7 linked regions of the Homo sapiens genome follow. The protein of the gene in region 7 purifies or fractionates together with the protein of the main gene of each other region. This does not show direct contact. Each region holds a gene or a part of one and is shown on either strand. Other genes may lie near its edges.

Evidence for each region.
Region 1: the proteins of SERPINA12 (region 7) and MIA3 purify together in Homo sapiens (co-immunoprecipitation; 3 studies listed by BioGRID and IntAct, with this or other methods). This does not show direct contact.
Region 2: the proteins of SERPINA12 (region 7) and PNPT1 purify together in Homo sapiens (co-immunoprecipitation; 3 studies listed by BioGRID and IntAct, with this or other methods). This does not show direct contact.
Region 3: the proteins of SERPINA12 (region 7) and UBR2 purify together in Homo sapiens (co-immunoprecipitation; one large-scale study listed by IntAct). This does not show direct contact.
Region 4: the proteins of SERPINA12 (region 7) and SEZ6L2 purify together in Homo sapiens (affinity purification with mass spectrometry; 2 studies listed by BioGRID and IntAct, with this or other methods). This does not show direct contact.
Region 5: the proteins of SERPINA12 (region 7) and KIAA1549 purify together in Homo sapiens (affinity purification with mass spectrometry; 2 studies listed by BioGRID and IntAct, with this or other methods). This does not show direct contact.
Region 6: the proteins of SERPINA12 (region 7) and TXNDC15 purify together in Homo sapiens (co-immunoprecipitation; 3 studies listed by BioGRID and IntAct, with this or other methods). This does not show direct contact.

Annotation. Positions count from the first base shown.
Region 1 is NC_000001.11:222,652,597-222,656,096, reverse strand, and holds part of MIA3 (transport and Golgi organization protein 1 homolog isoform 1 precursor), read right to left. Parts: intron 3,090-3,500; coding exon 2,967-3,089; intron 2,870-2,966; coding exon 2,758-2,869; intron 1,855-2,757; coding exon 1,799-1,854; intron 1,709-1,798; coding exon 1,618-1,708; intron 1,443-1,617; coding exon 1,304-1,442; intron 1-1,303.
Region 2 is NC_000002.12:55,641,845-55,645,344, forward strand, and holds part of PNPT1 (polyribonucleotide nucleotidyltransferase 1, mitochondrial precursor), read right to left. Parts: intron 2,877-3,500; coding exon 2,793-2,876; intron 1,582-2,792; coding exon 1,475-1,581; intron 1,370-1,474; coding exon 1,314-1,369; intron 1-1,313. UniProt on the Homo sapiens protein: RNA-binding protein implicated in numerous RNA metabolic processes. Catalyzes the phosphorolysis of single-stranded polyribonucleotides processively in the 3'-to-5' direction. Mitochondrial intermembrane factor with RNA-processing exoribonulease activity.
Region 3 is NC_000006.12:42,661,529-42,665,028, forward strand, and holds part of UBR2 (E3 ubiquitin-protein ligase UBR2), read left to right. Parts: intron 1-655; coding exon 656-749; intron 750-1,729; coding exon 1,730-1,891; intron 1,892-3,500. UniProt on the Homo sapiens protein: E3 ubiquitin-protein ligase which is a component of the N-end rule pathway.
Region 4 is NC_000016.10:29,893,051-29,896,550, forward strand, and holds part of SEZ6L2 (seizure 6-like protein 2 isoform 5 precursor), read right to left. Parts: intron 2,811-3,500; coding exon 2,671-2,810; intron 2,411-2,670; coding exon 2,209-2,410; intron 1-2,208. UniProt on the Homo sapiens protein: May contribute to specialized endoplasmic reticulum functions in neurons.
Region 5 is NC_000007.14:138,915,390-138,918,889, forward strand, and holds part of KIAA1549 (UPF0606 protein KIAA1549), read right to left. Parts: coding exon 1,359-3,500; intron 1-1,358. UniProt on the Homo sapiens protein: May play a role in photoreceptor function.
Region 6 is NC_000005.10:134,894,871-134,898,370, forward strand, and holds part of TXNDC15 (thioredoxin domain-containing protein 15 isoform 1 precursor), read left to right. Parts: intron 1-1,423; coding exon 1,424-1,554; intron 1,555-3,500. UniProt on the Homo sapiens protein: Acts as a positive regulator of ciliary hedgehog signaling. Involved in ciliogenesis.
Region 7 is NC_000014.9:94,502,970-94,506,469, forward strand, and holds part of SERPINA12 (serpin A12 precursor), read right to left. Parts: intron 1,254-3,500; exon of another isoform or gene 1,064-1,253; intron 1-1,063. UniProt on the Homo sapiens protein: Adipokine that modulates insulin action by specifically inhibiting its target protease KLK7 in white adipose tissues.

The sequences.
Region 1 (3,500 bases), on a different chromosome or scaffold from region 7:
TCGGGAGACTGAGGCAGGAGAATGGCATGAACCTGGGAGGCGGAGCTTGCAGTAAGCTGAGACCACGCCACTGCACTCCAGCCTGGGCGGCAGAGTGAGACTCTGTCTCAAAAAAAAAAAAAAAAAAAAAAAAGGGAAAGAAAGTCTGGAGATACGTGATTAGCTAGGGGACTGGCATAAAAGATGACAAGGGCCTGAATTAACACAGTGACTTTAGGGGTGGACAGTAGAGTACAAACCACACATGGAGACTGAATGAATTTTGGGGAAGTTGAATAAAACACTGCCACATCAATGGGTTAACTGTATCACGAAGAAAAACAGTTGCCATTTACGTAATTCACATTACTATTGGAGGCAGAGAAGTGCTCTTTTTTAAAAAGTAATGAAATGAGGAATGTCTCTCTGAAGCAGGACAGGCATTTATTTAGAGCTGGCCTGAACAAAACCTGGAAAATCTAAACTGGCTGCCTGGTGAGCAAAGAATTAGAGAAAAAGTTAATGGTATGGTTTCAATATTTAATGGCATACAGCAGTAGCAGTCTAAGCATTTAAAAAAGTTAAATTTGCTTAGCAAGAGAGGCCTCCTCACACACTGCCATATACACCAAAGAGTAAAACATAAGAGCAAACACAAATAGCAACTGCCACAGATAACCTATTTTTAGAGAATTCAGATGTTTTTGTGGACAAAAAACTTGAACTATAAAAATATACCTCTCAAAAGGTACCTCGCTCGAAATTTGAGATATGTATTTCAGAGGATTATTATCTAAATATACACACCAAATAGTTCTACATTCAAAACTCCTAATATCTTTGCCACAATTATGTTTAGTTTGAATATTTTACTCTGTGAAGTCCAAAACTAAATGTACCTTCAATAAGTAAATTTTCCTTTTTTGAAGTTTTTATTCTACTAAAACACGTCATACAAATCCCTCAGACTGTTTAAAGGAAATTACATAATTGACCACAAAGAAAGGAAAGTGAAACAAGTGGCGGAGCCACAGACAAGGCATGGCCAGATCTTCAAAAGAGAAGCACTCCCACAGCAGCGACCGTCAGTACCAGTACACTGCTCCCCCTTAAGTGAGTTACAGGCAACAGTTTTTGACTACTGGTTAGAAAGGAAAGAAAAATGCAGCTTATGAGAAACAAAGCAGAAAGAAAGAAAGACAAATTTATACTAATTACAGATGCAAAAGAGTACAATCCTGAAAAACGATAACATTATCTATATTAGTACACATTTATTTACTGACATGACAATACAGTTAACAGTAAATGATGATAATCTTACTTTTGCAAAGCCATCTCCTTCTGCTGATAGAGCTCATTCAGAATCTCCACTTTCTGCCTCAAGGTTTTGCATTCATCTTCCAGTCCAGCTTTGGCAGCTTGTAGTGAGTTGCGGTCATCTTCCAATTTCTTTACCTGGTCTGTAAAGGATAAAACATTTGAGTTCCATATGTGTGCACAAGAACTTGAGAACTTGGTTGGGGGCTGGTGCTGAGAGAAATGAGAAGTATGAAAGCAGGAAGCCGCTCTTTATCTTTCTAATGCAATTTTGTATCTTTCCAATATATAGCAATTTCTTCTCAAGAAGCAACCTACCTTCCAGGTTACATTTAGTGGACACGGAGGCTCTTAGCTTAAGCTGTAAAAGCTTTAGATCCTCTTCAACTACCGATATTGCAGTCTGTGTCTAAAAATTGCAGAAGAGACAAGTATTCATAAAAGTGAGGCATAGTAAAAGTATTCACAGGCAATTATGGGACTCTAAAAACGATTATACCCGAGAGACATCCATCATCTGCTTAATTTGATTTTTCATCTTCTCATTCCGGTCACCTAAAAAACAAAAGGCTTTCTTTCATTGCTTTTTCTTCCCTTGCTTTTTAAATCTATATTTTCTTGATTTACCCAAAACTAAACAATTGTCATGTTCAAACATTTAAAGAACAAACAAAAACAGAAAAGGATTAGACTGACTTTTAAGAGAACTGCAAACTTAAGACTGAAAAAGTGAATTCCCATTTGTACAATAAACATGTTATACATGCCATTATTGAGCAAGAAGAAACATGTGAGATAAAGCTCTTTCTTCCATCTGGGCTTAGTGTCTTATTCAGAAAGATTCCCTCCTATTCTCCTCCAGAATCTACTACCAGGTGTGGTTTAAAACACCCACTACACAAGCAATATCCAACTTGAGAGAGGGCATCTAGAAACATTTTCCTCATCAGTAAACACTGCAACACTATAGCCTCCACTCTCATGGCCTTAGTTTATGGATCCAACCACCTCAGTACTCTCAAAACCAGTTGTGGTTTTCTTTCATGGCCTTAGTCAGTTTATGCCTCCAACCACCTCAGTACTCTTAAAACCAGTTGTGGGCCTTAAAACCACACAGCTACTGAGATGACAAGTTTTAAAATGTTATCTCCATGAAATTGAAAAACAAGTTTCTACTACTGTATGTGTCCAATACTTAGAGGTGTAAGACATGACCAGTGCAGCTCCCGTGCACCCTTCTAGTCTCAATGTGAAAACAAAGTCAGTGTTCACTGCATGCTTACTGCTACACCTCACCCTAGCAATCCACCTCTGCCCAATGCAAACAGACACACATTCAAATCCAATGTATTTACACCTCGAAAGCTTAAGAGGAAATGCAGCCAGCTGAAAAGTAGCACTGGTGCACTTAAAGACAGGAAGGCAAAAGGGGTCCATCCTCCTTGAGGCTGATCTTACCTCCCACTTCTCCATTTGCTAATTCATCTGAATCATTTCCACCTTTATTTTGACCCTCAGATTCAGATTCACACTCTAACAGATTCAACTGTGTAATGCAGTTAGTCAAAGCCTAGAAAAGAAGTAAAAGGGCATTAAGAGTCTTTCCATTTAATTCAACAGATTTGATAATTCACAAGAATTAAGCTTGTATTCATGAACGCACTTACATTAATATTATCATCCTTGTGAGTAAGAGCTACTTCCAAATCTTTCTGAGACTTCTCAAATGATTTGATTTGCTCACTGAGCTCAGCATGTAATTTACTCCAGTCTTCGATTTCCTGCTGCAACTGCAAAGTTAAAACACATGATTCCCACAGGTTAGGGCTTTTGCACTGGAGACATTAGGACCACATGAATGAGACAGGTAAATAAGGAACCATGCCTCTCCTTGGCCTATCACTATGGGCTAAGACCTTGGTTAAGTGGGAGGAGACAGTGGCCCCAACCCTCAGAGCTGTAGTGAGAACATCAGAGCTATCAAGGAAATTGATCTTGTTTATTGCATCCTTCAGAAAATTGTAGCCAATTCAAATAATTCACTTCCAGAAGGAACAGAAGGGCTCATCCTACTATCTCCCAAGTCCACACTCCTGATCATGTAACCTTCCCTTGGCTAGTGAAGCAGTAACTACTCAAAGGAGGGTTATAAAATATCTAACTCTTGGGTCTAAAAAGCCAATCTACTACCCACTCGAGGC
Region 2 (3,500 bases), on a different chromosome or scaffold from region 7:
GCTTTTTTTTTTTTTGAGATGGAGTCTCGCTCTGTCGCCCAGGCTGGAGTGCAGTGGTGCGATCTCATCTCACTGCAACCTCTGCCTCCCGGCTTCAAGCGATTCTCCTGCCTCAGCCTCCTGAGTAGCTGGGATTACAGGCATGCACCACCATGCCTGGCTAACTTTTGTATTTTTAGTAGACATGGGGTTTCACCATGTTGGTCAGGCTGCTCTCGAACCCCCCACTTCCTGATCCACCTGCCTTGGCCTCCCAAAGAGCTGGGATTACAGGCGTGAGCCACCATGCACAGCCGAAATTGGATTTAAAAATATGTGCCAATTAAGCATTCAGATATGTTTAAAATAAGCCATCAAAAGAAAAAAAAAGAAATAAAGAAATATTGCTAAGTCTATTTTGGGCCTATTTAATATTTACTGGGAAAATTAATTTGGGGTTTCACCAATTACTAGTAGAAAATTTGGTTAAAGAATTCAGTTGGCCGGGCGCGGTGGCTCAAGCCTGTAATCCCAGTACTTTGGGAGGCCGAGGGGGGCGGATCACAAGGTCAGGAGATCGAGACCATCCTGGCTAACAAGGTAAAACCCCGTCTCTACTAAAAATACAAAAAATAATTAGCTAGGCGTGGTGGCGGGCACCTGCAGTCCCAGCTACCGGGGAGGATGAGGCAGAATGGCGTGAACCCGGGAGGCAGAGCTTGCAGTGAGCTGAGATCGCACCACTGCACTCCAGCCTGGGTGACAGAGCGAGACTCTGTCCCAAAAAAAAAAAAAAAAAAAAAAAAGAATTCAGTTAAGAGAACCTATCATAATTAGAACCACAGAACTGCTACTTTAATTTTATAAAATGATATAGAAAACAAAATATACTATACCTTAAAAAATAATGATTATATGGCAATTGGCATGTAATCTAAACACCTTATGATTTCAAAGTAAATGTAAAATTAAATTGGGATTATAATAGGAATCTGTTAAAAACCAAAACAGGGCTGGGCACGGTGGCTCATGCCTGTAATCCTGGCACTTTGGGAGGCTGAGGCAGGAGGATGGCTTGAGGCCAGGAGTTTAAGACCAACCTGGGCAACATAGTGAGACCATGTCTTTACAAAAAAATTAAAAAATCAGCCACGTGTGGTGGTGTGTGCTTGTAGTCCTAAATAGGAGGCTGAGGTGGGAGAACTGCCTGATCCCAGGAGTTCAAGGCAGCTGTGAGGTACAATGGCACCACTGTATCCCACTGTGGGTGGCAGGGTGAGACCCTGTCTCTAAAGAAAGGAAAATGCTCAGCATAGTATATTACTTGATATTACCTGATTTCAGTTATTGTGGCGGTATATACTGCTCCAAATTCTAATTGCTGCTCCTGCTGTAAGTGCAAAATAAGCCATAAGATTCATAAAGAAAACATCAACAAAAAGTAGAAAAAACAAATATAGCTATATGATACGTAATTAATATGATCTATACTTACATCATCCTTGCAGATTTCAGTAATGAAGTCTCTTGCCTCATGCATAGCACTGGGTGTTGGTGCAAATACAGAAAACGTTTCTTCATCCACCTGACTAATAGTTACACCTTTTAAAAACAAAATGTAACATATTAAAGTTAACTTGGCTGGGCATAGTGGGTCACATCTGTAATCCCAGCACTCTGGGGGGCTGAGGTGGGAGGATCACTTGAGCTCAGGAGTTCAAGGCCAGCCTGGGCAACATAGGGAGAGCCTGTTACTACAAAAAATAAATTCAAAAATTAGCTGGACCTGGTAGCATGTGCCCACCTACTTGGGACTCACAGTCGGGAGGATCACTTGATCCCAGGGGTCAAGGCTGGAGTTAGCTGTGATTGTGTACTGCACTCCAGTCTGGGTGACAGAGCAAGGCCCCATCTCAAAAAAAAAAAAAGTTAACTTGCTCATTCCAGTGGAAACTCGTCTTAAAAATAGATGTGAGAATAGGAGGGACCTATTAGTAGCTGGGTGGAGTTATGCTGTATTTAATCATTACTTTAGGAATGAAGGAATTCATTCATCAACAAATACACTCTGCATACTTGCTAGGTACCTGGCATTATACTAGGTAGGCCCTGGGGATACAATGGTGAGCCAATATGCTTGATTTCTTGAAATTCACCATCTAGTGAAATCAAATATATCTATACAAATTTTGGAGAGTCTGGTTCTGCTCTCTTAATTACGAGTAGAAACTATAATAGAACCCTTTCCTTACTTTTTTTCTTTCTCCCGCTTACTCTTACGAGGGGTGAATAAATGAATAAGGGACAAAATCACATCAGTTTCTCAGTGTTAGCAAATGGCTAAGGTGACAGTGCTTCTCACTCTCTTGCAGTAACCTCAAACCTTGAAGTACGAGGTAATTCAAACATTGCTTCAGGAAAAATAAATTAAAGCTTTTTTTTATATACTCTTTAAATAAAAGAGTTAAAATAAAACTAAGTGAAAGTAGCAGAATAAAAAGAAATAACTAAGTAATAATTCCTCTAAAGTTAAAAACTAAAAATTATTCTAGATGTTCAACTATAAAATGTTGCAAAAAAGTCCTGATGAATTCTTTGTAATCCTTCTTGAATTTAGTTAAGAATGACCATTTGCTAATTTATTAATAGGCACACAGAAAACTCACAGTCAAGACACGTCATATCCTTTTCTCCTGGTCTTTCTCTCATTTCTCAAATAAATATATATTTAAAGCAACATACTAGAGATGAAATAGCAAACTTTTATGGTCTAGCATTTAATTAAAAAACCCCAAACTTCATACAACTCTTACCTGTTTCAGCCTGAAGTTTTTTTAAGTTATAGCCACCAGGTCCAACAAATTTTGCTCGTTTTGATAATGGAACCTGAACAGTTTCTGGAACGTAATACAGACAAATATATAAACAATTCAACTACATACATGAACCTAAAACATGCCATGGTCACTTGAGATTTTTTTTTTTTTTGACCTAGACACATGTAAAAATATTTTACTATAAAACAGAAAAGTAGATGATTAAAATTACTGAAAACTGTTAAAGAATATTCCCTAAAATTTAAAGCATTTTAACTACAAAAGTATTTAAAATATTTTCGTTTTGTGCACTGGGTAAAAACAATTTAAAAGCAGTAATATTCATTCATATATTAATGTTTATCTTACCATGATCACTAAAATTTTTTTTTTTTTTTTTTTGAGACGGAGTCTCACTTTGTCGCCCAGGCTGGAGTGCAGTGGCGCGATCTCGGCTCACTGCAAGCTCCGCCTCCCGGGTTCATGCCATTCTCCTGCCTCAGCCTCCCGAGTAGCTGGGACTACAGGCGCCCGCCACCACGCCCGGCTAATTTTTTGTATTTTTTAGTAGAGACAGGGTTTCACCGTGTTAGCCAGGATGGTCTCGATCTCCTGACCTTGTGATCCGCTCGCCTCGGCCTCCCAAAGTGCTGGGATTACAGGCGTGAGCCACCGCGCCCAGCCGATCACTAAAATTTTAATGTA
Region 3 (3,500 bases), on a different chromosome or scaffold from region 7:
TAAAGAATTCAAAAATTCCAAAAGAAGCCAGACATCCATCTTGTTTTTCATGATTTTTCATCCCCTTTGAATATAAAAATTAGCACCAGGACAGAAGACTCTGAATTACCTTTTTTCCCCCCATCTGATCTGGTCTGTGCTTAGATTTTTTGTTGTCACTTTGGCTCTGATGTGATTATTCGCTGTATGAGTGTTGTTAGGCAGTCTGTCCTCTAGGGGGCGCCCCGTTACTGCCAAAACATTTTTTATTAGCGATCATTTTAACCCAGCTGCCCTGAACGCACATAAGGCAGCCCCATGAAGAGAGTAGCTCTTTTACCTGGAGCTCAGGGTACAATGGGAGGAATTGGAATATCTCAGCACCCTGAAAGTGTGAAATGTTCAAAAGATTGGATATATTTAAATTCATAGTTCTAATTTCAGTTTAACAATTTGAGAATGTTTAATTAATTTGCTGTGGGTGGTGAAAATTAGAGAGTCCTACTTTCTAAATAATCCAAGGTGTTGCATAAATTGGTATCTCAGAGGAATAAACTAGCATTTCATTTCAAATTTCAAGTCTTTATCAAGGATTTTACAATTTAAAGTTACACATTTGTTATAGGAAAATTAAATGCTTCACTTTTGTTTTGTTTTGTTTTGTTTTGTAATGCAGAAAAATATGATCCATTATTCATGCACCCTGATCTGTCTTGTGGAACACACACTAGTAGCTGTGGGCACATTATGCATGCCCATTGTTGGCAAAGGTAATGTATATTCTTAATATTTGTCAAGAGAAGTTTATCTAAGGGCTCAATATTTTTTAAATAGAGGAAATTTCATTCTAGAAAAAAGGAAAAGAACTAAAAATGTTGAAAAAATCCGTATCATTGCCTAATAAATAACAAAAGTTATTTGCCTTGTCATAGATGTAAAGTGTATGTCAGATATGTTTTTTAATTTAGCTTTATATCCAAGTCTCTTCTATATCTTCCAAAGAAGGAAGTGGATCTGTATCAGTCTGTGGATGAAGAAAAGGGTTTTTACAGTAGGATAAACTCTAGAAGGGTAATGTTGTCTTTCTTTGGGTCCAGGGTGGACAACTTTTGATTCCATAGATGTTAGTACTTGCTTTGTTACTTCCCAAAATTGTAATGGCTCCCTGTGATGAGATGTCCTGAATTTGTTCTACCTTGGTGTTTCCTATGCTTCTACAAAACCAACAAATCAATAATACTATTATTCTAGAACTATGCTCACCCAGTTATCATGAACTACCCCTAACAACTAGCCACCACATTGTAGTCCCAGCTACTTGGGAGGCTGAGACAGGAGAATTGCTTGAATGTGGGAGGTGGAGGTTGCAGTGAACCAAGATTGTGCAACTGCACTCCAGCCTGGGCGACAGAGCAAGACTCCATCTCAAAAACAACAACAACAACAAAAAAAAAACAAATAGCCACCAGCCTTGGGGAAGTGGCAAGAGAACAATGACACCAAGAAATTTTTGTTGCTGCTTTGTGAATGCTTTTTTACATGGCAGTCTTTTTTTTTATTTTACTCTTTTAGAACTTTTAATCCATTTGGATTTTTAAAATCACTCAAAAATCATGTTAAAAATAATTTAGTTTAAGATTTTCATTTTTGAACTATTTGTGGAAACAAATTATTTTAAATGTTGAAGCTTATGGCTGTCATTTATGTAAATTACCATTGTTTTGATACCTCATGTTCTCTAATTGTAAAGGTATTTTGATTCCGTTCAAGCTAAAGAACAGCGAAGGCAACAGAGATTACGCTTACATACGAGCTATGATGTAGAAAACGGAGAATTCCTTTGCCCCCTTTGTGAATGCTTGAGTAATACTGTTATTCCTCTGCTGCTTCCTCCAAGAAATATTTTTAACAAGTAAGTTTTGGCTCATGACAACTATTACAAAGCAATAGTTTGCTTTGAAGATAATGAAATAATAAATCAAGGAGGAAAACTTAGTCTAGGCAATTGCATAGTGTTTTCCAGATACTTTCCAAACTCTAATCATTTTCTTCTAGCAGACCTGTGGAATGTGATTTTAGTTTTTAGAGAGGAACAGGTGAAAATTTAACAGTTTCTAAGCTATTAAATTCCTATGTATTTATGAAAACCAAGTATCTGGTTTATTTCTAGGGACCCTACTTTTAATATCTTCCATACACTTTTCAAGAGATGCTCAGTAAACTGGTAGAGGGAGATGGAACAACTCAAACTGACTTTATAGGACAGTCTAAAAATCGAATAAAACTTTTTGCTGTACTGGCCATTCATAGTTTTAAGAACCAGGCAAAAAAGTGAAAATCTGTTGGTATATTTTAAATGGAAAAATCTCAGCTGGGCGTTGTGGCTCACATCTATAATCCTAGCACTTTGAGAGGCCAAGATGAAAGGATCATTTGAGCCCAGGAGTTCAAGACCAGCCTGGGCAACATAGTGAGACCCTGTCTGTACAAAAAATAAAAAGTTAGCTGGATGTAGCGGCATATTCCTATAGTCCCAGCTACTTCAGAGACTCAGGTGGGAGGCTCGCTTGGGTCAAGGCTGCAGTGAGCTTTGATCATGCCATTGCACTTCAGCCTGAGTGACAGAGCAAGACCCTGTCTCAAAAATAAAATAAGTGCTTGCTTCAGCAGCACATATACTAAAATTGGAACGATAAAGAGAAGATAAGCATGGCTCTTTCACAAGGATGACACACAAATTCATGAAGTGTTCCATATTTTTAGCTCTTTTAGAATTTGTCTAGCAGACTAAAAAAAAATAAGAAAAGAAAATGGAAAATTTCTGTAACTTCACAGTTTTTTGGATGCTTTTAGTTACGAGTATTGGACATACTCATTTCGAGTATGAATTTGATAATGTCTGCTTTTCGAATCTGAACTTCATTTCTCAATGTAGAATTATGCTATCTACGTTGCATGCACAAATACTAAGTTATGTGAGTATAAACGATCCATTTCTGTGTTATTTGGATTCAGTTCAAAGCAAAGTCAGTTTTTTCTTGTCAGTTTTAGGAGTTCAAACTTTGGTGTTCTTAGTCTATGCTACCACAAAATGTTCTTAAAATATTAGTAGATTTGAGTGTAAGCTCATGCTTTTTAATTATAAAAGAATATCGTGGTACTGACTTATCTGCATTTGAACTGATGAAGAAATTAATTATTGTTAGATGGAGGATTAACTGTGTATAAGAAGAAATCACCCTTGTTGGATTTCATCTGTCACTTTATTGGTCCAATTTTTGGGTTTTGCCCATGAGATTCAATTATGGTTTAGTCATATTCGAATACAATCATAAAAAGAACACAGGCTTTGGAATCTGACAGAGCCAAGTTTGAATGCTAGCTTTGTCCCTTATTCGGCCTTAGTCAAGTTACATAGCTCTAAACCTCAGTTTCCTCATCTGTAAAATGGGGACAATAATAAAACCTATTACAAAATATAGGAATACAACCTATGCAAATAATAATACAACCTGAAACAA
Region 4 (3,500 bases), on a different chromosome or scaffold from region 7:
ACCATGGCTCACGCCTGTAATCTCAGCACTTTGGGAGGTCAAGGCAGGAGGATTTCCTGAGGTCGGGAGTTCGAGACCAGCCTGACCAACATGGAGAAACCCCGTCTCTACTAAAAATACAAAGTTAGCCGGGAGTGGTGGGGCATGCTTGTAATCCCAGCTACTCAGGAGGCTGAGGCAGGAGAATCGCTTGAACCCGGGAGGCAGAGGCTGCGGTGAGCCAAGATTGCGCCATTGCATTCCAGCCTGGCCAACAAGAGCAAAACTCCATCTCAAATAAATAAATAAATAAATAAATAAAATTCAAATTAGGAGGCCTGGCGTGGTGGCTCATGCCTGTAATCCCAGCACTTTGGGAGGCCAAGGCGGGTGGATCACTTGAGGTCAGGAGTTCGAGACCAGCCTGGCCAACATGGTGAAACCCCATCTCTACTAAAAATACAAAAATTAGCCAGGCGTAGTGGCAGGTGCCTGTAATCCCAGATACTGGGGAGGCTGAGACAGGAGAATCATCTGAAGCTAGGAGGCAGAGGTTGCAGTGAGCTGAGGTCATCACCACTGCACTCCAGCCTGGGCAACAAAGTGAGACTCTGTCTCAAAAAAAAAAAAAAAAAAATTCAAATATCTGCCTGTCACACCTGCAGGTTGAAGTAGTCTGGACTGCTTACTGAAGCAGATAAGGCTCTTTATGGTCTGAATCTGACCTGCCTCCCAGCCTGGTCTCTGGCCCATTTCCCCTTCACCCGCTTCTGTGCTTTGAAAGTAATAGCAGTGACTGACAGTTTTGAGCTCTCACTGTGTACCACACGCTGTTTGTGTTTTTGTTTGTTTGTTTTTGAGACAGAGTTTCACTTTTGTCACCTAGCCTGGAGTACAATGGCGCAATCTCAGCTCAATGCAACCTCCGCCTCCTGGGTTCAAACAATTCTCTTGCCTCAGCCTCCCAAGTAACTGGGATTACAGGTGCTTGCCACCATGCCTGGCTAATTTTTGTAATTTTAGTAGAGATGGGGTTTCACCATGTTGGCCAGGCAGGTCTTGAACTCCTGACCTCAGGTGATCCACCAGCCTTGGCCTCCCAAAGTGCTGAGATTATAGGCGTGAGCCACCACGCCAGGCCACACACTGTTTTAAACACTTGACATGTATTAATTCATTTGATCTTCCCCATAATACTAAGTATTGTGATCCCTATTTTTCAGATGAGATCATGAGGCACAGAAAAGTTAAGTAACTTGTCCCAGGTCACACAGCTAGGACAATTCTATCTTCCATGCTGAATTCCTTCACCTCATCTGGGGGTCACGTCTTCTCTCTCTGGGTCTTGGAGTGTGCTTTTTCATCCACTTAGCCATCTGCCTCCCTCCTTCTCTCCCTCCCTCCCACCCTTTCCCTGGCGAATTTATCCTTCAGGTCTCAGCTTAGTCATCATCTCCTCCAAGAAGATGTCCCCATATTCCTTGGGAGAAATTTAGGTCCCTTGGCTATGTGCTGCCCCCGCTGGTGTTTCTGCCATCATATTCCTTATCTCCTTGAATTATAACCATCCTGATTACTCATCTGTCTTCCTACCTAGATTCTGAGCTCGTTGAAGCCAGATTTACACCTGGTTTGTTCATTCCTCCTTCAAGGCTAACACAGGGCCTGGTATGAAGCAAGCACTTGATAAACATTTGTTGGATTCAATGGATGAATTGTCCCTCGGATGTGTGCACAGATCTGTGAGTGTGTGAGATAAGTATGCATGGGTCTCCTCTGAGGGCCCTGCCCCCCAGGGTCGCAGTCAGGAGGAAAAGCCCCCTTCGGCACCCTGTGCTTCGATGGTTCTTAAAGATGTCCCCTCTATAGGCCGGGCACAGTGGCTCTTGCCTGTAATCCCAGCACTTTGGGAGGCTGAGGCAGGTGGATCACAAAGTCAGGAGATCGAGACCATCCTGGCTAACGCGGTGAAATCCCATCTCTACTAAAAATACAAAAAATTAGCTGGGCATGGTGGCGGGCGTCTGTAGTCCCAGCTACTTGAGAGGCTGAGGCAGGAGAATGGCGTGAACCTGGGAGGCAGAGCTTGCAGTGAGCTGAGATCACGCCACTGACCTCCAGTCTGGGCGACAGAGCAAGACTCTGTCTCAAAAAAAAAAAAAAAAAAAAAGATGTCCAGTGTATGCAGTATGGCCCCTGCCCTTCCAGCAGCACCCTCAAACTCCTCACCCTGATAGTGGATCCTGAAGCCACCGCCCCTTGGGACCCGTGGGCTCTGGAAGTGCAGAAGCAGCCGGTTGGTTGGGCTCCGAAGGACTTGTCCTTCTCCAAGCATGGATGAGTTGGCCAGGAGTCGGGGGGCCAGGCCTGGGGATCCCCCACCAGCCAGCACCAGGAGCTCCTCTTCCTGTGACAGGTTCAGCGTCTGCACCTAGAGAAGCCAGACACAGACCCGCCAGGGCAAGTCAGCCAGGTGTTTGACTTCCAAAGCCCCTGTCCTGTGCCTTTGCCCTGTGTGTAGCAGCCCAAAAGGCACCACGCTGCTGCCCAAGTTGTAGAAATCTAGAAGAGTTTTTGAGGTCACCTGAGTCATCAGACAGGTTCTTTGGCTCCCAGGCCAAACCCGTGCACACCCACAGCCCAGAGGAAAAGGCTTGGAAGCTGCACAGTCACATGCTTTGGTCCAGTTACCTGGATCTCAATGCCGTAGCCAGGGTAGACATGGATGCTGTAAGTGCAGTCCAGGAGCCCCAGGGTGCGGCTGACGGGGCTCCCCAGATCTGGAGACTCCACATACCCTTCGCCCTCGGAGATGTTGTTATTACACAGAACTGAGGAGATACAAATGGCTGGGATGGAAGGAATGCCTGTGCTTTTGCCCTCCCAGCCAAGCAACTCTGGCCTTCATCTCCCTTCTCCTTAGCACTTCTCATCATCTTTTTGTTTTGTTTGAGACAGGGTCTCGCTCTGTCACCCAGGCTGGAGTGCAGTGGTGCAATCATGGCTCACTGCAGTCTCAAATTCCTGGGCTCAAGTGATCCTCCCTCCTCAGCCTCCCGAGTAGCTGGGCCCACAGGTGCACATCACCATGGTGAGACAATTTTTAAAACTTTTTGTAGAAATGGGGTCTTGCCACATTTCCCAGGCTGGACTCAAACTCCTGGCCTCAAGCGATCCTCCTGCCTTGGCCTCCCAAATCACTGGGATTACAGCTGTGCGCTGCTGTGCCCCCCTCACCATCTTTTATTTTTTTATTTTTATTTTTTTAAGATGGAGTTTTGCTCTTGTTGCCTAGGCTAGAGTGCAATGGCTGGATCTCAGCTCACCACAACCTCCACCTCCCGGGTTCAAGCAATTCTCCTGCCTCAGCCTTCTGAGTAGCTGGGATTACAGGCATGCGCCACCACGCCTGGCTAATTTTGTATTTTTAGTAGAGACAGGGTTTCTCCATGTTGCTCAGGCTGGTCTCGAACTCCCGACCTCAGGTGATCTGCCCGCCTGGCCTCCCAAAGTGCTGGGAT
Region 5 (3,500 bases), on a different chromosome or scaffold from region 7:
ATACTAGGTGCTCAATCATTACTTGCCATGTGGAATAACGAATGTTTCCCTTTGGCGTGTGGGGAGCAAAGGCTGTCCTGGACTCATTCTCCAAAGCCATTCCCACAGGTAGGGTGTTGATCACTGACGTGTACCTGCCATCAGGATCCTCGCTCCCACCTGCCCAGAGGGATGTGGCACTGTCACAGTGAGCAGAGGCTCCCAGCAACCCCGACCACAGAGAGGAAAAGACCCAGCGTGTTCTCCTCCTTCTCCCCCTTCCACATTCTCTGCTCCTCTCCTTCCCGGTCCACTCCACCCCACTCCTCCCTACCTCTTCTGCCGTTTTCGTCCCCTTTTTCATTTCTGTCCTCCACTCCTACCAAAATCAAAACAGAGGACAGGCTGCTCGTCACCACCAGGCTGTGGTTCAGCACACAGTCATGACCCTCGAGACCACATACACCTGTCATGTCTCATGAGGAAAAATGCAGAGACCCTGACCAAGCGGGCCACCGTCGCGGGACATGACCCTTGAAATCAGTCTACCTCTCAGGCATGCCCTCAGGTGGGCACCAGCTTCACGCGGCCACAGCAGCCATGCAACTGCAAGGGAAGCTGCTGGCCAGTCTGCTAGCAACCCAGGCTGTGGTGGGGAGGAGACCAAAGGCTGATACTGGATTCAGAGGATATTTAGTCACTACTTTTCTTTCCTCGGGACCCAAGGAGCATTTACAGGGACCTATAAGAGCAAAGAGTCACTTTACTTTTCTTTCCTCGGGACCCAAGGGGCATTTACAGGGACCTATGAGAGCAAAGTGCAGTCTCCTTTCAAGGAAAAGTAAGAAGAGTAAATGAGTAAGAAATTGCAAGGGTTGCCCTTACATAGTTGCCCAACTCATTGCTTGAATTAAACAAAAAAGTATTTTGTTTAAACTATGTCATCCATGCACCTACTGGGTTATGGTAGGACAAAGATCCTACCAAGAACTTCCAAGGCTTGTTTAGTTCTTGTATTTGTTCTAATATTTATTCTCCTTGTGACTGCTGACTAATATGCACCATCCCGTGCATGCCTCTGATGTACTAGGCAAGGGCTGAGCGTTCTGCAGGGACTAACGCATTTACATCTGAACAACAGCCCAATGAAGCAGGTTTAACTAAGCTCCTTGTTTAATGGGTGAGGCAGCAGACGATTAGAGAGGATAAATAACTGTTCTGAGAACTCGCAGGAGGTAAGCATAGGAGTACTACCTGGGAGTTAACTGAGCCCAGCGCCTCTGCTCTTAACCATGAAGCTCCAAGCCTCACAGGCACTGCACACAAGCTCCTTAGAAAGATTGCCCACCCCAGAGAGGCGGCAGGAAGCTGGGCCTTACCAGTTGTGATCAGATAGGCATCGGGGACTGTGATATCACAAACATATGGCGGCTTGGCAGTAGCCAGTGTTGGTGTGTCGACTGTTGCTTCGAGAGTGAAGGCAGTCACGGGACGCAGGGATGGCAGGGGAGGAGCAGCACTACTCTCTGGGGGGCTCTGACTTGCGGCGTCACCCATCAGGGTGGAGTCGAGGGGACCACCAGTGGCAGCACCGGTGCTGGTTGTGCTCACTTCCGTGGAGGTGTTCAGTGGCACCTCTGTGGGTGTGAGTGATGGGCCCACGACGGTCAGCTCTGTGGGCAGAGGGAAGGGGGTTGCTTCAGAAACAAACGAGGATCCTGATGGCAGGTACGCGTCAGTGATCAACACCGTACCAGTGGGAATGGCTTTGGAGAAAGAGGCCAGGACAGACACGTGACCGTCTAGAGCACTGATTTGGTCGTCAGGAGGTGTCAGAGTTGAGAACAAAGAAGACTCAGTTAAAATGGGCGTTGTGTGGACAGTGGTCAATGGTGATGTTGCTTGAATCCCGGCAGTCAAAATGTCAAAAGACTCAGAGCCGGGGGGCACCAGTGCAGTGACTGCGGATTCATGGGAAATGAGTGAAGACTCAAGATAGGAGGTAGTTTCAATGAAAGCTGAGGTAAAATGAGCTTCTGAATCCGTCAGTGAAACCGTAGACGCTTCAACAAACTCGAGAGAATCAGAAGGGAAGCTTGACCATGGTGACACCTCAGAACGGCTAGGTAGCAACATGATGGTGTTTAAAGGCAGCTCGGAACTTGGCTGGAGCTGCGAAAACTCAAGATTTGTGGAACTGGGAAGAGACAGCTGAGATGACTGCAGATCACTAGAGTCAAACAATGTAAATGTCTCAACCAAGGGAGAAAAAGACTGAGATGTGAAGGGGGACAAGTCACTCGGCATCAGAGACAGAGACGCAGGTGCTTCCGAAGGCGAAGAGATGGAGCCGCTGAGTTCCAGCGGGGGTGTTGAGAAAAAGCTGGATGCAAAATCCAAAGCACCTCTGGGTTTATGCTCAGAAAAACTGGAACGTTCTTGGTCAGAGAAAAGTGAAGACTCCACTGAAGGAACCAGACTATAAGGCGTAAAAACACTCGGGTCTCTGACGGCAAGCGACGGTGTGTTTTTGTTTGCTATGACAGAGAAAGATGAGTCAAGGAGAATGCTGGTGATGACCGAGAAAAATGCAGTGGTCACGCTGGATGGCGTCACTTGGGTTTCAGCAACAGACAAGGAGCCAGCAGTAGGATCAAGTGACGCCGGCACAGAGAGGCGGCCGTGGGCAGGGGGAACCTGTGTGGTTGTAACACTACTCATATCCACCTCGGCAGAAATGCCAACACTCGTCTCTGAGATTTCCATGGATCTAGAAGAAAGTGGGACGATAGGTCTGGAGGGGAAAAGCGTATTAAATACTTGAGGATCTTCCTCAAATTCAGAGAAGTCTGCTACGACGCTACTCATTAGAGAGATGCTGCTTTCTTCCAGCACGGTCATGCACAGAGTCTCGGCACCATCCCCTGATCCCACGTCTTTCTCCATGAGGCTCGTGGCCAGAACTTGCTGAGGTGAAGGCACAGTGCAGGCCGCACACCAAGTGTATGGTCTGAATGAGGACACCGGGCTCAGGATATGAGTGTTGTCCACAGGACCGGGGAGGGCTGAATTGCTATGCAATTCGGATGTTTTGCTGGAGTCGCTAGGGAGAAAGGGGTTAGATGAAACATCAGTTGGTGAAGCAGAGGACGCAAATGCAAGAGGAGTTGAAAGCAATGGAGAATGTGTCCTGCTGAATGCAAGGGCTGCGTGCGATGCAGTCACAGTGGGGTATGTTCTTGGAGAGATGGTTTCTTCTAGGCTTTGACTCAACACAGTGGTCACATCAGTGTATCTGTCTGCACTTGTGGCCCAAACCTCCTCTGGAGGCTGTGAGACCTCCCCCAAGGAGGGCAACGGTATAGTAATGCCGTCGCCTAACGGCTGTGGCATTAAAGACCGGGAGCTTAAAAAAAGGGTGGTTTCCACACCCTCTGTTAGGGAAGCCACAATCTCTGGCAGAGTCCTGCTTGATAAATGACTGTAAGCATCAGTAGGATAAAGCACCAAATTCCTGCCAG
Region 6 (3,500 bases), on a different chromosome or scaffold from region 7:
CTTCCATTACTCTGTACTTGAGGCCAGGTGCAGTGGCTCACACCTGTAATCCCATCACTTTGAGAGGCCAAGGTAGAAGGATTGCTTGAGCCCAAGAGTTTGAGACCAGCCTGGACAACATGGCAGAACTCCATCTCTATAAAAAAAAATACAAAAAATTGACTGAGGATGGTGGCACATACCTGTGGTACCCCAGCTACTTGGGAGGCTGAGGTGGGAAGATTGCCTGAACCAGGGGAGGTCAAGGTCACAGTGAGCCGTGATCCTGTCACTGCACTCCAGCCTGGGCTACAGAGTGAGACCCTGTCTCAAAAAAAAAAAAATTGTATTCCACTGATTTTCATTGTGGGAATATAACTGCCAATGTTTACCTGAAACTTTTATGAAGAAAGAAATGGCTCAACAAATTAGTAATTTTCATATAGGCTTCTGGGTTATATCTAAGTGACTGGGCCCAAGGGAGCAGACTGATTGGAAGGACAGATCACGTCAGTGTCCAGCTTTGGTGGGGCCTCCACTGCCCCCAGGCATACTCAGTGCTCTTTGGTTCTGGGTCTCACACTGTCCCTCCTGCCTCTCCCGCAACTCCCTCCCTAACCTGCTTTCTTCTTTCCTTCCTTCAGCTCCATGTTGTATCTTAATTATGGAGACTAAGGCTCTTGCTGTTATTATATGGGCTGGGACATGTTTGCTTCTTATGTTAATATTTAAGTTACAGCATGTGTACAAAAGAAAAAAATCCTGGTTATACACTATTACTATTTTACTAATGCGGAAAATTGAGGCTTAGCAAGGTTAAATAATCTGCCCAGAGTTCACATTGGTTCAGTGGCAGAACTGAGGCTTCAACCCAGAGTGTTTTGACTTGGGAGCTTATCACCACTAGTCTGTATTATGTAAAGGTGAAATAAGCCCGCACAGTTATATTCCTTCTAAACAAGTCATCCTGCCCTAATTGTGAACATCCTGGTGTGTTTGTTAGATCATATACTCCCTTGTGCCAGCTTACCAAACCAATTGCCTACTGTAAGTTGATCTTTTTTGAGGGACAGGGATGGGCATTCTGAAGAGTTGGAAATTTTTTCTGTCAAATAAGTTGACACAGTGTGCTTTGTCCATGAATTAGAGTTTTCTGGTCTGGTTTGTTTAGACAGGAACTTAACTAGTGGAATAATTGTGCCATTGGTAGATCCATATTATAATTGAAAGCAACTCAGATTGCAGAAAAGGAGTGCCCCCCAGCCATGACCCATAAGCAAAGAGGTCAGAAACAAATGAAAAAGCCAAAAGTTTCAAGTATCAGAAATCTCCGTAGGTCACACGCAACTTCCTCATTTATTTCTGTCTATTCTGAGATGGTAATTGTATGAGAAAGCCCTCTATTAATAATAAATTCAGGTTTTTTGACTTCTTTCTCTTGTAGCCTTTCTACCAGGTTTGGCACCGTAGCTGTTCCTAATATTTTATTATTTCAAGGAGCTAAACCAATGGCCAGATTTAATCATACAGATCGAACACTGGAAACACTGAAAATCTTCATTTTTAATCAGACAGGTATGTGGAAGTAATGTGCTGAGGAAGAAGATATTCTATTGCTGGGGGTCTGTGCCTTCTGTGGGTTCTGATCTGCTATAATCCTTAAGTGAAGGATTCAAGACTGACTTTGAGTTGTAAAACTTCTCTTCTAATGAACTGTTATGATCCTGTTAAATACTTCCCAATCAGTATGAAGTTTAACATGAATAGGTAATTTTAATTATTATAGATACTTTTTTTTTCCCTTTTTTTTTTTTTTTTGAGTCTTGCTCTGTCGCCCAGGCTGGGGTGCAGTGGTGCGATCTTGGCTCACTGCAACCTCCACCTCCCGGGTTCACGCCATTCTCCTGCCTCAGCCTCCCGAGTAGCTGGGACTACAGGCGCCCGCCACCATACCCGGCTAATTTTTTGTATTTTTAATAGAGACGGGGTTTCACCGTGTTAGCCAGGATGGTCTCGATCTCCTGACCTCGTGATCCACCCACCTCGGCCTCCCAAAGTGCTGGGATTACAGGCGTGAGCCACCGCACCCAGCCTTTTTTTCCTTTTTTTTGAGGCAGAGTCTCACTCTGTTGCCCAGGCTGGAGTGCAGTGGCATGATCTCAGTTCACTTCAGCCTCCGCCTCCTAGGTTCAAGTGATTTGCGTGCCTCAGCCTCCAGAGTAGTTGGGATTACAGGCGTGTGCCCAGCTAATTTTTGTATTTTTAGTAGAGACAGGGTTTCGCCTTATTGGCCAGGCTGGTCTCGATCTCCTGGCCTCAAGTGATCCACCCGCCTCGGCCTCCCAAAGTGCTGGGATTTTACAGGTGTGAGCCACTGTGCCCGGTCTATTATAGATACTTTATTGTTTGATTGACTGAGACGGAGTCTCGCTCTGTCACCCAGACTGGAGTGCAATGGCATAATCTCAGTTCACTGCAACCTCTGCCTCCTGGGTTAAAACGATTCTCCTGCCTCAGCCTTTCTAGTAGCTGGGATTATAGGTGCGCACCACCACACCTGGCTAATTTTTGTATTTTTTAGTAGAGACAGGGTTTCGCCCTGTTGGCCAGGCTGGTCTTGCACTCCTAACCTCAAGTGATCTGCCTGCCTTGGCCTCCCAGAGTGCTCAGATTACAGGTGTGAGCCACCGTGCCTGGCCTATTATAGATACTTTAAAACAAGTGTTACTGAAATATAATTCACATACCATACACTTTACTTATAACTTTTAACGCACATTTTTCACTTAATATTTACACAAAGATATGCATAAGTCATGAGTGTACAGGGTGATGAATTTTCACAAAGTGAACACCCTGGGTAACCACTCTGATCAAGAAACAGAGCACTGGCTTATGCCTGTAAACCCAGGAGTTTGGGAAGCCTGTGCGGGTGGATCTCTTGAGGCCAGGAGTTCGAGACCAGCCTGGCCAACATGGCGAAACCCTGTCTCTACTAAAAATACAAAAACTAGCTGGGGATGGTGGTGGGTGCTTGTAGTCGCAGCTACTCGGGAGGCTGAGGCATGAAAATTGCTTGAGCCCAGGAGGCAGAGGCTGCAGTGAGCTGAGATCACAGTACTGCATTCCAGCCTGGTTGACAGAGTGAGACTCCGTCTCAAAAAAAAAAGAAAAAAAAAAAGAGAAACAGAACATTACCAGCCTCCCTTCAGCACCACTGCTCCTGCCTTCCCCAAAGATAAAGATAACCACAGTCTTGACTCCTAATATCATAGACTGTGTTACTTGTTTTGGACTTCATATTAATGGAGACATGCAGGATGTTTTATTTTGTGTCTGTTTTTTTCATCCAACAGTATGCTTGTGAGATGCACCTGCATTGTCATGTATGGTTATGTTTTGTTCTTTTTCTTTGCTGCTACTGTTCCATTTATTAATCCATTTGTAGATGCTATCTTAGTTCCTTAATATTTGCCAAAACATATGGCCTTATTTTTTATTGTTTGTAAAACATTGTAAAG
Region 7 (3,500 bases):
TAAACCCGGTGCCCTTCTTTGGGCTGAGAAATCTGAGGAATCCTTGCTAAAGGTGTGCCTTGGCCTCCCAACAGAAGACCCTCACAAGAGCCCTGCACTTGAAGAGCCACTTCAGGCCTGCTCTGTGGCTCACCTGTTTTAAAGGACTGATATTGCTTTAAGAAGAAATCACTCTATATACATCAGAAATTAAATTATTATTTTTAAAAGCACATTTAGAACTAAGTGGTGGTAAGACATATCTTCTCTCCCCTGTTAGAAGTAAGAGAAGCCCCATAAACAAACTCTGATGACCACAGCAATATACTTTCTCCTCCTTTCTGGAAAACAAAGAGTGGAGAACATGTCCCCATTCCACTTGTTAATTTGCCCTGTAGATTTCTGCCTTCATTCCTTAAGAAATATGTTTGAGTCCTCACTCTGTGTCAGGCACTGGGGCACTAGAGCAATGCCCAGGAAATGGTCCATATTGATGCTGCAGACTGACTCTCAGCCCAACAAGCCCCACAGCCTTCTCCAAACCCTCAAGAACCTTCCAGCTGTTTGCCTGACCTGGTCCTCCTCCCCTTCCGTGACTGCATTCTAGGAGGAGGGGTATGTGGGTTGGAAAGGCTGAGAGATCATTGACTTCAGGACTATCTGTGCCATAAAGAGGGAAATGAGGCCCAGAGTGGACAAAGGAAGAGATTGTGGTTGCAGTGTGCATCAGTGGTGAAGGCAATTCTGCAGAAATGCATTGAACAGGCTGCTTCGCCTCACTTTCTCCATGAACCAGTGAGTTGATGGATCCAGCCTCTATCCTCAGAGAGAGATAAAGATTCACAAACAGCTCACACACAAGGATGACTGTGGCCAGCATCATGCAGCAGGGGTGGACCCAAATTGGAGGCACCACTTATGTCCCAAGACTTCTCCCATCCCCACATTCATGAAGCTTCTCTCTCTAGAAAAGCACTGGGCAGTAGACATCCATAACACTCTGCCAAAGATGTTCAACAAATTCTTCAAGAGGGGTTTACCTGGATTTTGGAGATCCTCTAGAATTTTCCTTTCATACACCCACCTGTGGACAGTGCTACATCCTCCCTCGATCTGAAGCAAGCTTCGTGTGGAATAGACAAGAAGCACCGGATCTTTTGGAAGGGAAGGTCTCATACTCACAGTACATTCAGAAGTCCACTGAGCCAGCCAAATGCATCTGCCTTTCTTGCTTTATTATTTATACTTCCATGGCCTCTTGGAAGAGTAAGGCCAATACAATGAGCTGGCGTGTATGGGCAGGTGATGGAGGCTTTGGAAGCAATGGCCACACCACCTCCCTGGGAGCTCTCCCTGTGGAGGCAGCGGCATGATATCGTACCGGCCACACCCACTGGGCTGTGGCTTCCCTAATGAAGTCCACTAGACACCTTTTGCAACGACTCTATTTCCCAGTTGCTCTCTGGGTATGGAAGCCAGAATAGTCTACAAGTAGATGAGCCTAGAGTCCTAATACTGAATATTCAACCCAAGTATCATCATTGCTGCCCATGGGAACAGGTTGATAACTGGGCTTCTTGGGGTCATTCCCATGTATCCCTCACCATTTTCTTTTGCTATTTTTTCATGTGTTCCAAATTAGCTTAGCTCACATGGAGTCCTTTGGGGAAAAAGTTCGAGGACAGACAAATAGACAACTAAATGCGTAGATTCCGTTAGGAAGAACAGGAATTAAAAATTCACCTCAAAGTTCATGATCATGGAAATTACAAATTGTTTTCCTATTGCACATTTGTTGTGCTGGAGTGGTGAGACTATGGTTGGGTTCTCTTGTGCTGGGGTGATGAGACTATGGCTGAACTCTGTTGTCTCTGCCTCCCCCTTACTTTTCTATATTTTCCAAATTGTCTTTAAAAAACAGATATTACTTTAGGATTAATTTTTCAAAGGCTTAAAATAAAATAAAATAAAATTCTTATCTTCAGTTTTACCACTTGGAGAGAGAAGCATTGAAGATGTCTGGGAACATTCCAAACCCACTGATGCTGGGATGGAAGAGCAATAAGCTCAACATGCCTATCTTCAATTCTGCTTAATCTAATGAGCTCCAGTGAGCAGAAAAAACATTCACATATTTCTTCCCCATTGAGTGGTGTTTCACAGTAGGTCGTATCTGATCGAAACACCTCGGAGGCCTCGGAAGAGCCATGGGTGTTGTTTTCCCTTCCTTTGGGTTGCTGCTTTTAGCAAAGACATGACTCTCATTCCCAGAGCTATTCAGAGCAGGTGACCCAGACAAACCTTCTTGGAAAGAGGAGACACTAGTTCATTCCCAGGCCTGGTTCAGCCACAGACTCTATGCACTCAGGGCCTAGATGAACAAGGACATGGGGATATGGGTTCCAGAGCTGCCCAGATCAGAAACCACCCCTGAAGATGCCCCTGAGCCACCACCTTCCCTCGCCCAGGCAGCAAGGCCTGCCTGCTGGGATGCATGGGTCAAAGACACCATGTGAACGGCGAGATGAGAGACTTCACACTGGCCGGCTCTGGTCACCAAGGGGTTGCAGAGGAGACAGAAGGACAGGCTGAGACCAAGGAGTACAGGTGGTCCTATTGTGACTGTAGAGGCTATAGTGGTGGAAGATCAGAGCCAGTGAGGTGGACACTGACCCAGAATCCAGGTCTGTACATCTGGTTTGGGAGGGAAAACCTGCCCTCTAATGACAGGGTGAGGCCTGTGTGAGTCTGAGGGCCATGCCTCCCTGCCTGCCCCAGACACTCTCTGCTCCAGGGTAAATTTCCACGGGAGACATGCAGGAAGAGGCCAGGGTAGGGATGCCCACTGAGCGACACGGGCAGCACTGGGGATGCCTGAGTTCAGACAGTGCCAGAGGCCAGTAGGCCATGGGCAGAGGGTAGCCACAGGTGGGCTGCCGGCCAGCCAGGCGCTACACCTGGGTTGGGAGTTGCCTGTCCTGCCTGGGGAAAAGAGCCCCGGAGGAGGTGCACGTCTGTGGAGAGCAGTGAAGGATATAGGCATGGGAGGGAGCAGCCCCCTTCACGTGCCCATTAAGGGACCTCAGCCTAGACTTGAGGCTGCCCCGACTGCCTGTAGTTAAGATTCAGGTCCCATGGATTTGTGCCTGGTGTTCATCAGGGGCTAGAAGGATGAAGGAGATTGTCCAGCCTGGGAAGATTATTGTTATAAGTTAATGGGCCTAAGGCACTGGTCGGAGGCTGAGGGGTGGCCTGAATATTTTTTACATTATTGCCATGTGTAGGGGTGAGAGGGGAGCTAGGAATTTCTGGTCCTCATCCTCACTCTTTGGATCTCCCAGATGGAAGAAACATGTTAGTGACCATGCCACACCCTAACTCCAAGAGCTCTGGTCTGATGGGAACACAGAACACAGAGATACAAGTCACACTAGGTAAGGGCCAAGGTAGAGGTAACTCTGGGAGGTGAGAACACACAAGAGGCACCTGATCCTAGCTGGGGTGCTCTGGACTGTGTCATA